Linked DNA regions of Homo sapiens: region 2 is linked to region 1. Evidence: fine-mapped expression QTL. Tissue or cell type: whole blood. Region 1 holds a variant in brackets; the other region holds the start of a gene. All regions are shown on one strand. Distances are from middle to middle.

Evidence for each region. PIP is the estimated chance that this variant, and not a neighbour inherited with it, causes the effect. A credible set is the group of variants that fine-mapping cannot tell apart.
Region 2: it holds the start of CPA5, and the variant in region 1 is the best candidate, but not a certain one, in a credible set for the expression of CPA5 in whole blood (TOPMed, PIP 0.76).

Annotation. Positions count from the first base shown.
Region 1 is chr7:130,362,483-130,367,482 of GRCh38, forward strand. It overlaps CPA5 (carboxypeptidase A5), which reads left to right. Exons shown (of 13, transcript NM_080385.5): 8 at 1-57; 9 at 402-512; 10 at 937-1,027; 11 at 4,890-5,000. LOC105375504 (a long non-coding RNA gene) reads right to left here and starts at 4,645. Exons shown (of 2, transcript NR_133928.1): 1 at 4,348-4,645; 2 at 3,168-3,387. RefSeq lists an enhancer at 3,004-3,505 and a silencer at 3,576-3,625. The variant G/A (reference allele first, on the strand shown) is at 2,497.
Region 2 is chr7:130,340,992-130,346,797 of GRCh38, forward strand. CPA5 (carboxypeptidase A5) reads left to right here and starts at 3,825. Exons shown (of 13, transcript NM_080385.5): 1 at 3,825-4,214; 2 at 4,848-4,905; 3 at 5,402-5,610. The coding sequence starts at 5,495. The region is part of intron 1 of LOC105375503 (a long non-coding RNA gene); the gene reads right to left. It overlaps LOC124901837 (small nucleolar RNA U13), which reads left to right and starts at 3,424; the gene lies at 3,424-3,527. RefSeq lists an enhancer at 5,017-5,806.

The DNA.
Region 1 (5,000 bases):
GGAATTCACTCCCGGGAGTGGATCACCCATGCCACCGGCATCTGGACTGCCAATAAGGTCAGCATGGACCTGTAGCCAAGGTGCACCCACGATGGGGGCTGCAACTGGGGGCAGGAACTTACTATTTAAGGGCACCTTCAGTTCAACAGTTACACTCAGGGTGCTGTCTCCATCCCGCCCTTTGGAGCAGCCACCGTGCACTCTTACCTTTTGCAGCACGGAGCCCACATTGATCCCCTGCCTTCTAGTTGTTTAAAATCCAAGCCTTTGGTTCTGCATAAAAGATATACCTCAGGGGTTTCATGCCATCCCTTCCTGCAGCCACTGGCTGTGAAAATGTCCTGTGCCACCTCCCAGGAGACCCAGTAGGGCCTCCCATCCCTCCTCACTCTTTCTTGCAGATTGTCAGTGATTATGGCAAAGACCGTGTCCTGACAGACATACTGAATGCCATGGACATCTTCATAGAGCTCGTCACAAACCCTGATGGGTTTGCTTTTACCCACAGCATGGTGAGGGAACCTGGGAAGGATGGAAGGAGGGGGTCAGCTCTAGGGGGATGGAGAAAAGGTCACTGTGCTTTGGGAACCAGCCCCTTCAGAGCCTCTTTGCAGAAGCCCTCACCAAGGGCAGGAGGGCTGCTCAGGTACTGCACCTGCAGCCTCTTGCCCTCTGACCTCTTTCTTGCTGCCCAGGGAAGGCCTCTATTGGCAGCCTGTGCCCAGGCCTCTCCCTAGACCCTGACTTCAACTGCACAGTATCTGAGCTGCATCTTTGGCCCAGCCCCATGCCAGCCCCATCCTGTCCTGGCAATTCCTTCCCTTTGCTCCTCCCTGCCCCACTAGGGTCCCCTACCCCCATAGGCCAGGATATCAGAGGCTCCCATCCCTGGGAATGGGCCCAGTGAATGAGGTCACCTGTCCTGGGCTTTCCCAGAACCGCTTATGGCGGAAGAACAAGTCCATCAGACCTGGAATCTTCTGCATCGGCGTGGATCTCAACAGGAACTGGAAGTCGGGTTTTGGAGGTATGGCAACCTGCTGTCCTGGGGCAGGGTTGGAGAAGAGGTGTTGGCCCATGGCAGGTTCTCCCACTCAGTCAGATTATGTTGACTCAACTTGGGAGGCATGGGACAATGTAGTCAGCTAATATGCATGAGTCACGGCCAGGGACAGGCAAGCACATACCTCAGACTGGCTGTGGGTACGGGAGAGGTTGTGTGTGTGTGTGTTGAGTGTACACATGTGCCAAACCTTCACGGGAAACAGTTAGGGGAGCCCCAGCTCCTGAAATGAGGACTAACTGCATGAGTCAAATCCTAAATATGACAGAGAAAGACTTAAAGGAGGTACAAAGTAGCCTTGCTTGTTGTTCAAAATCCAGAGTTTATGGTGCTCCTAAAATATCCCTAGCCCTGCCCTGAAGGGAGCACAACATGAAGAAATGCCTCTGAACTCTTTCCCCGAGAGCTAGGACCTGAAATCTGCCCTCTGGGGAGGCCAGGGCAATAGTTTCAAGTGTCCAATAGAATTAACCACTTTTTTTTCTTGTTTTCTTTTTTTTGAGACAAGGTCTCACTCTGTCACCCAGGCTGGAGTGCAGTGGTGTGATCATGGCTCACTGCAGCCTTGACCTCCTGGGCTCAGGTGATCCTCCCACCTCAGCCTCCCAAGTAGCCGGGACCATAGGTGCACACCACCACACCCAGCTAATTTTTGTTTTTGTTTTGAGACTGAGTCTTGCTCCATTGCCCAGGCTGGAGTGCAGTGGCGTGATCTTGGCTCACTGCAATGTCTGCCTCCTGGGTTCAAATGATTCTCCTGTCTCAGCCTCCTGAGTAGCTGGGATTGCAGGTGCCCACCACCACGCTGGGCTAATTTTTGTATTTTTAGTAGAGATGGAATTTCCCCATATTGGTCAGGCTGGTCTCAAACTCCTGACTTCAGGTGATCCACTCACCTCGGCCTCCCAAAATGCTGGAATTACAGGCATGAGCCACTGCGCCCAGCCAATTTTTGTATTTTTAAAAAATTTTGTAGAGACGTGGTTTCACCATGTTCCCTCAGCTGATCTTGAACTTTTGGGCTCAAGTCAATCAGCCGCCTCGGCCACCCAAAGTGCTGGGATTACAGGCATAAGCCACCACACCTGGCCTTGAGCCAATTCTTTATCAACAAGGCTGGCTTGAGCCTGATTTTTATTTTTGACCCATTACTTTATGACCCTGGTGCATACCTGCAGAGCTGGCTGATCCCAGTGAGGGGGAGGGGGCAGCTTTCTCCTGAGTTCCTTGGTGTTCTTCCCTGATTATCTCCCTAACCATGCAAGGGGCACAGGGATTGGGAAATTGAGGCCTCCAGAAAGCTCAGAGACAGGTCCATGGACCCTGGAAATACAGCAATTTGATGGGCAGGACAATTTGATGGGTCCAGTCATGACAGAGATTCCAGAACAGACACAGCCCTCGGCCCCCAGACATGGCATCTGCACTTCACC[G/A]GGGGCTCAGGGTTTGGCTCCACAGGGGACGGTGTCATTGCTGTTGATAATCAGACCTATAGGCTGGTGTCCCAACCAATGAGATAGAACATTTTAGATCTGGATGCCCATTGCTTTTAAAATCTGGCTTCTTGGGGTCTGTTCTCACTGAAAAATAAGGATGGCCCCAAAGCACTGAGAGTGAGGTCCCTGGCCCTAGCGTGGGGGTTGTAACTGCTTGTGTAATGGAACAAGACCATGCAAAATTAGGCATTTCCACCTCCAAATGAACAGACGCTTGCCTCAGGGGGGGCATCCATGTGGCCCCTCAGCACTGACTGGAGTGAGTACCCATGGATCCCAAGATAGGCTGGCTAGTAGAAAGATAAATTACCTCTTAAAGAAAATAACTTCTGTGGGTCTCACCACAGGAAAAAAAATATCCATATACACACAGTGTACAAAACAATTATGGAAAAAAGCCCAGAGGGGGCAAAAAGCTCCCATAATCCCACCACTCAAAGATCACTGCTTTTAATAATTTACCATGTCCTTCCAGAGATTTCCCCTTGCTACAAATTACATTTTTAGAGAAGGAAAAATAAATAGCTAATGAATCCATTAGCAGGTACTTGTGAAACAGGCGGACTCAGAGGACCTTGACTGTGAACGTCAGAGATGCAGGCAGCCAATTCCCATTTGGCCAGGGGAAGATTAGTTTATTCTGCTTAGCTCAAACCAGAACTAATGGCCTAAAGTGTTTCTCCATATTTGGGCAAAGCCACCTGGTCGTTGGCAGGGGAACCGCTTTCTGTGCGTGGGCCGCAAAGGCAGACAAAGCCTTCAACCTCCCCCCGCTCTGCGCATCTGTTGCTGTTTGTCATTCATCAAGTGGAGCAGGTGCAGGAGCTCCTGGCAGACATAACAAACAAGGCCACTGTTAGATGGGCTGATTCCAGCCTGGGGGCTGCCTTTCACCCCCTAGCTCTGCCGGCACATCCCCTTCTAACCAGGGTCCCCATCCCAGGTGAGGACCACCAAACCGAGAAGGGGCGCGCTCCCTGGGCCTCCCTGGGGCCAGCAAGAGTGTGTGTCTGGGTTGGTGACTCAGGCTGGATGATTTTGTTTATGGTTTTGTTATTGCCTTAATTGAATGGCTGTGTAATGAGTAACCTGTAGACCATCCCTCCCACCCGTGCCTGGCCTCCTGTGCATTCTTGGGGAGGACCTGTGTGCTGCATTCCTAGAGCATCATCTGAAGTGGTCCATGGGCCAGCCCCCAGCCCCAGGAGTCAAGAGGAATGCTGTGGCCTCCTCAGGAGACTTCAGAAGTTGAGGCGATCCCTGATCTCTGGACGGTGCCAACATTCCAGGGAAGAGGAGAGAGAGGAGAAACTGGGATGACTCCTTCCAAGTGTGTCCTTAGCCTACAAAGTCTTGACCAGCTCAGCACAGCCCAACCCTCCCCTCAGGAATAAGGGAAAAGCAGAGGAGGAGCAGAAGAGGAAGACAGAGATGGGGCGAAGGCAAAGAGTCCAGGGGGAAATGGAAACAAATGAAACTTGGGAAAAGAATAAAAGCCCTGCTCCTCTTTGTTCTCTCCCTCATCTTAAGTCCCCAAGAAGAATTTTCAAAGACTTCTTTGCACCTCTGGCTCCCAGAACAGCCTCAGGCAACTATGGGGAACTATTCTCCCGTATTGGTTTCCCATATCCCCAGACCCCAAGTTCATGGCGCACCTGGGGCCATGGCTGTGGCAAAGCTTCAGCTGACACCGAGTCTGAGCCCTCAACTGATGGCACACCCAGGAACGGTCAGCCTAAAGGCATTTGCTGCTCACTAGGGGAAGCCAGGGTTGGGGCAGAGACTTACAGTTTCCTCTGGATGCAACTTCTGAGCCAGGCCCACCTTCCTAAAGGGACCACAGGACAAGCCGAGGGGGCTCCCTGCAGGGCTTCAGAACTGCAGGGTATGGTGCGGCTGCAGTCCTCTGACATATTAGATTAGAGGATGCAGCAGTAACAAATATCCATCCCAATCTCAGTGGTTTAACACAATGAAAGTTTGTTTTTCATGCACACAAAGTCCAACATGAACAGGTGACTCTCCTTGGCGGCTTTCTTCCGCAGTGAGAGAGGGATCCAGGAGGCTGTTTCTATCTAGAATTTTTTTTTTTTGCTTCCAGCCACACAGACAGAAAAGAGCATGGAGAAGTCACACTTGCTCTTAACAATCTCAACCCAGAAGTGCCGTGTCATTTCTGCTCACCTTTCCATTGGTCAAAGTAGTCACATGACCTCAGTCATACTGCAAAGGAGGCTGGGAAATGTAGGGGAACACACAGGTATTTTGTGAGCACCGTCTGTGTCGCACGTGGGGATTTGACTCTTTGGGTGGCTTTATTTTACTTCCAGGAAATGGTTCTAACAGCAACCCCTGCTCAGAAACTTATCACGGGCCCTCCCCTCAGTCGGAGCCGGAGGTGGCTGCCATAGTGAACTTCATCACAGCCCATGGCAACTTCA
Region 2 (5,806 bases), 21 kb before region 1:
TAAAAAACAGATTTGTCAGCCTCTTTCTTGGACCTCTCAGCTTCCTAAGACTTTGGGGGCAGGTTTGCATATACCTGCTTACTTCAGAACAGGGAGGATTGCACATTGCTTGTTAGAATTATTCCTGATTTTTTTTTTAAGAAGGGGTGTCCCAAGTAGCTGAGACCACAGGTGCATGCCACCATGCCTGGCTAACTTATTTCTATTTTTTTGTAGGGACAGGGTCTCCCTATGTTGCCTGGGCTGGTCTTGAACTGCTGTCCTCAAGTGATCGTCCCTCCTTGGCCTCCCAAATTGTTGGGATTACAGGCACGAGACACTGCACGTGGCTATATGCTTTCTTTTATTAGTATTTACTTGGAATATCTTTTTTCCATCCTTGACTTTGAGTCTCTCTTTCTTCTTATGTTTTAAGAGTGCCTCTTGTGAAACCATATAGCTAGTATTTTTTTCTTTTTTTTTTTGAGACAGTCTTGCTCTGTCGCCCAGATTGGAGTGCCGTGGCATGATCTTGGCTCACTGCAACCCCCGCCTCCTGGGTTCAAGCAATTCTCCCACCTCAGCCTCCCGAGTAGCTGGGATGACTCCCACCACCATGCCCAGCTAATTTTTGTATTTTTAGTGGAGTTTGAAAGTTATGTGCACTGGGCCTATTCTTCTAGTTGTTGCTCTAGCTATTTGAACACGCATATTTACCAAAATCTAAAAAATTATCAATATCTCTCCTTTCTCCCAATAATTCCAGGACCTTAAAGACACTTTAACTCTGATGACCCACTTGCAGATAACATGCTATTCTTGTCCAGGACTTAAAACTTTGGTGTTAGATGATGCCGGGGAAAATATTTCCTGAGATTTCATAACCACAAGTAAGCCCCCGACATGAATTTGTGGTTTAAGTTTATGCTAACTATGCAGTCCCCCAAAAAAATCTTAAATTATTTAATTTAGAGTGGTCGCAGGTTGGTAGTGTCCCCAGCAACTTACAGAAGTAAACGCAAATCTTTTCTGGAAGAACCCACCTTCAACCCAGGCCTCAAGGGATTCTCACAGATAAATGTTCAAGGAAAATGATTGGTTCACAGGTATGTGGCATGAGAGAAAATGCACCATGAGTGAGAACCAGCGGAAAGAATAGGCAGCAGAAACAGACTTAAAACATCTAGGAATTGTAATTATCTAACACAGAATATAAAATATCTGTCTTATACGTTTAAAGAAATAAGAAATTCTAAAATAGATAAGAAATTCAAGTCATTTGGGCTTGAATCAGAAAAAAAGAATCAAATAGAACTTCCAAAAATGAAAAATGAATATCATATTGCATTGACTATAAAACAGGATCAATTTTATAAGATGCACCATAATTTTATGTGCCACCTTAGCATTGCAAGATGCCACCAATTGTAAGATGTATCCTGATTTTAGCAGTGTTAAAAATGTGAAAAAAATAGGTTGCAGAATCAATGAACCGTAGCAATTGAAAGGTAAAACTTCACAGATCAATTAAATTGCAGATTAAACTCAGCCAATGAAGAATCAGGTAACTGGAATAAAGACAAAAATATTTTTTACTAATAAATTATCCAGAATGTAGCCCAGAGAGACCACACAATGGAAATATAGCAGAATGCTTATGAGTCTTGGGGGCTAGAATGAGGAGGTCCAGTCAAAAGTTCCAGATGAAGGTAATAGAGAGGAAAAGGGGCAATGTTTAAAAATATAATGGCTGAGAAATTTGGAAAATAATAGAAAGCGAGTGACACTCAGATACAGGAATTCAAATGATTCTCAAGCAAGACAAAACAAAAAAAATCCATACCTGGACTTACGATGATAAAACTGTGGAACATCAAAAGCAAAGAGAAGCTCTTCAAAGAAACCAGGAACAAAGAGAGGTCACCTTCTGAAGAACAGTAAGTCAACAAACATTACCTTTTAGCAGCAAAAATGGAAGCCAGAAGACTGTGGGATAATATTTTCAATGTGTTGAGAGGAAAACAGTAATCAACTTGGAATTTCTATCCCAAAAAACCCTTTCAAGAATGAGAGCAAAATAATTCTTTCTTTCTTTCTTTCTTTTTCTCTTTCTTTCTTTCTTTCTTCTTCTTTCTTTCTTTCTTCCTTCCTTCCTTCTTCTTTCTTCTTTTCTTTCTTTTTCTTTCCTTCTTTCTTCTCTTTCTTTCTTTCTTTCTTTCTCTTTTTTCTTTCTTCTTTCTTTATTCTTTTTTTTCCTTTCTTTCTCTTTCCCTCTCTCCTTTCTTTTTTTTTCTGTCTGTCCTTCCTTCCTTCCTTCCTTCCTCGCTCCCTCCCTCTCTCCCTCCCTCCCTCTCTTCCTCCCTCCCTCCCTTCCTTATTTCTTTTCTTTTTCTTTTTTTCTTTTTTTTTTTTTTGAGATAGGTTTTTGTTCTGTCACCCAGGCTGGAGTATGGTTCTCTGCAGCCTCAAAGTCCTGGGCTCAGTTGATCTGCTTGCTTGCTTCCCGAGTAGCTAGGACTACAGATGCGTGCCTCACCATGCCCAGCTAATTTTATTTTATTTTTGCAGAGATAGGGTCTCCCTGACTTGCCCAGGCTGGTCTCGGACTCCTGGGCTCAAGCGAACTCCTGGGCTCCTCCTGCCTTGGCCTCCCAAAGCACTGGGATTACAGATGTGAGCTGCCATACCTGGCCAAAAATTTTCAAATAAGTAAAAACAGAAACCTTAACTAAAGGAAGGTTTGAAAAGATAGATTTGAAGCAGAGGGAAGATGATTCTAGATACATGGTACATGCATCCAGTAGGAAAATCAAGAACACCAGCATTCTGAGAAGTTCTCTGAGGCAAAACTTGCTTACCACTTGGGTGTCTGTCTGGCTTTTCCTTCTTTTTGGGATCTATAGATTCTTATTTTTGTGCCAACCCAGCAATGGCTTTAGAAAGTTGTTACTAAAAATATTTTCTTCTGCATTTGAGTTCTTTCATTTGGGCAAGATTGCTTAGGTATCTAACCCACCCCACCTGCAGGAAATAAAAGTCCTCCAAAAAAATTTCTAATTTAGGGAAACTCTCCTTCAGTCTATGTGGAGCCCATGTTCCCCGTCCTCATGGTACAATGTGCCTTTCCCTTGTAACACAAACACCATCTATAGTTTTACACTTATCTGGAGTGAGATGGGCTACCATTATGTCTTGGGTTTACCAATTATCTTCATGCTATTTAAATTAATTTTCTACTTACGCCTTTAGAAATGTAAGGGCCAGATATGTGTTGCTTTCTATTTTGTTTCCAGACTTTAGCAAGTGCCTGGAACATAGCAGGTATTCAGAGGACATTTACTGAGTAAATGATTAGGTGAGTAATTAATTATAAGTGAAAAGCCAAAATGAGGTATTAGGTCAAGCATAGCTATGTGTCTCCGCTTCAAATCCAGCCATAAGCTGATAATTGCAGTTCATAAGTATGATAATTGGGTGCTCACGCATGCGTGTGTGAGATGTGTCACCCTCAAACCTTGTTATGACGTCAGCACATTACCCGTCTAACATGAACTTAGAAGAAGCAAAACCAAAAACAAATCCAGCCATTGGAGATGGTGCTTTCAGGGTTGGTGAATTCCCAGAGAACTCTGCTGTCCAATATGGTAGCCATTAGCCACATGTGGCTATTTAAATTTTATTTAAATTAATTAAAGTTAAATACAACTCCAAAATCAATATTCAACCACAATAGCCACATTTCAAGAGGTTAGTGGCTATCCTACTGGGGGGTGTGGACATAGAATATTTCCATTATCACAGAAAGTTCTATTGGAAGCTATGTCATAGAATTCTCAAAACTTCCTAACTGCTTCTCTCTCTCTCTTTTACTCTTATTCTTTCTCTCTCACTCTCTCTCTTTTCCCACCCTTAAGCCAAGTACAGGGATAGTTGTCTCATCATTGGTGGCTTAAAATGATGTTTTTGAACAAGAAGACGCCCCATGGGTACTTTTGGTGACTAGCACTATCTCTGTTTTTTTCCTTTTAAATTCCTGAGCTATTGTTTAGCAGTACACCCTTTTATCTCCATTGCTACTGAAGCTGAATGTTACTTGGGTGGAAAGCATAACTGCTTTCTTTTCTATGTCCTTAAACCCTTTGATAATGTTACTGTTTGAGAGTCCCTGAAGCCAGGATACTAGAAGAGTCTGGCTTGTCTGAACAGCTGAACTACGAAATAATGGAGTAGGGCAGGTGGGTGGGGGAGCAGGGCGTTCTGTCGATAAACGAGCTCCCTTCTTTGCACACATAGCCAGTTAATCGGCCATTCTGAGATAGTTTGGATGGGGAGGGGGAGCTTCTGAGAATCGCCAGTGACAGTTAAGTGGCCTATTGTTGACGTCCTCTGCTGAACGACTTGGTTGGATTCAGCTTCTGCCTTACCCCCACCCCCTGTGGATTTTCTGTTAGATTCATCATTTGCCATTCAGGCATCATCTTTCACTTTCTCCTTCCAACATGACTGCTTTGTGTGCTGGCCCCTGCTTTACTCCTGCTATTCCCAAACTATAAAGGGAACTGTGTGGGGCTTCAGCAGGACTGAGAAATTGACTCTGCTGTCTGTTGAGAACTCTAATAATGACTGCGGTGACCTTCATGTCTAGCAGAAAACCCACTGTCTGTGCTAGCACAATGATGACCACCTGAAGACAGAGAAAAGGGAATCTTGATTGAATTCCTTCTCATACAATATATAGTTATTTCCTTTGTTCTCCTCTCCATTCTCTTCTCTTCCCCTTCTCCCCATCGCCACTGGAGGACTGATCTCAAATGCAGCTGTGACTAAAAGTTAATGCCTTTTGAATAATAATACATTGCATTTTGCAGGCTTTACCAAGCCAATTCACTCAAGTTGTCTCATCTATACCCCTTCAAACCCTGTGAGGTAGGGAGGGGAGGTATGATTAACCCCATTTGATGGATGAGTAAACTGAGATTTAGAGATTAGGGCAGCTGCCCCAGATATTTTAGACGGGAAGTGAGCACCCAGTCTCTGTCTCTAAGTCCAGCGGTGTTTCAATGGCATCCACACCTTATGTGTAAGGAGGATATGGCCCAGGGAAAGCATGAGTGGGCTAGGCGGAGAAGAAGAGCGAAAGAGAAGATGCTGTAGAGGAGGGAGGAAAGGAGGGGTATCCCAGGGCTGCTGGCTACTTTGGTCTTTCTCCAGAGATGGAAGCTTTGATGCTCACAAGGGGCTGCCCTGGCAAACCTCCTGAGAGAAAAGAAAAGCTAAGGCCTGTCTTCCTCCTTCTCTCTTCCCTCTCCCCTTCCCAGGAGAGGATGTGCTGGGTTGGGGAGGGGCAGCCCTAGCTCTCCCAAGGCCTGGCATGTGGGAGCCACATGCTGGGTGCCCCAGACAGCCTAATGCTCTTTCTCAGGCTGGGCTTTCCAGCCTCTAGGTGCTGTGCTGTCCTGAGGCCTGGGCCATGGTGCCCAAGGAAAGCCCCTGAAGCTCACCAGGAGGAAGAAGCATGCAGGGCACCCCTGGAGGCGGGACGCGCCCTGGGCCATCCCCCGTGGACAGGCGGACACTCCTGGTCTTCAGCTTTATCCTGGCAGCAGCTTTGGGCCAAATGAATTTCACAGGGTGAGTGGCTGCTCCACAGTGGGAGGGAGGACTGGCTGGGAGGAGGGGACTGGGTGTCCCAGCAGGAGGTGGCTGCCCTGCTGGTGCCTGATCAAGGCGGAGAGTCAGGATGTGGGTTCCTGTCCTGAACCCACTTCCAGCTCCACAGCCTCCCACTTTCATGCTCCGGGGCTGGCTCGTTGGTGGTCCTCCCCAA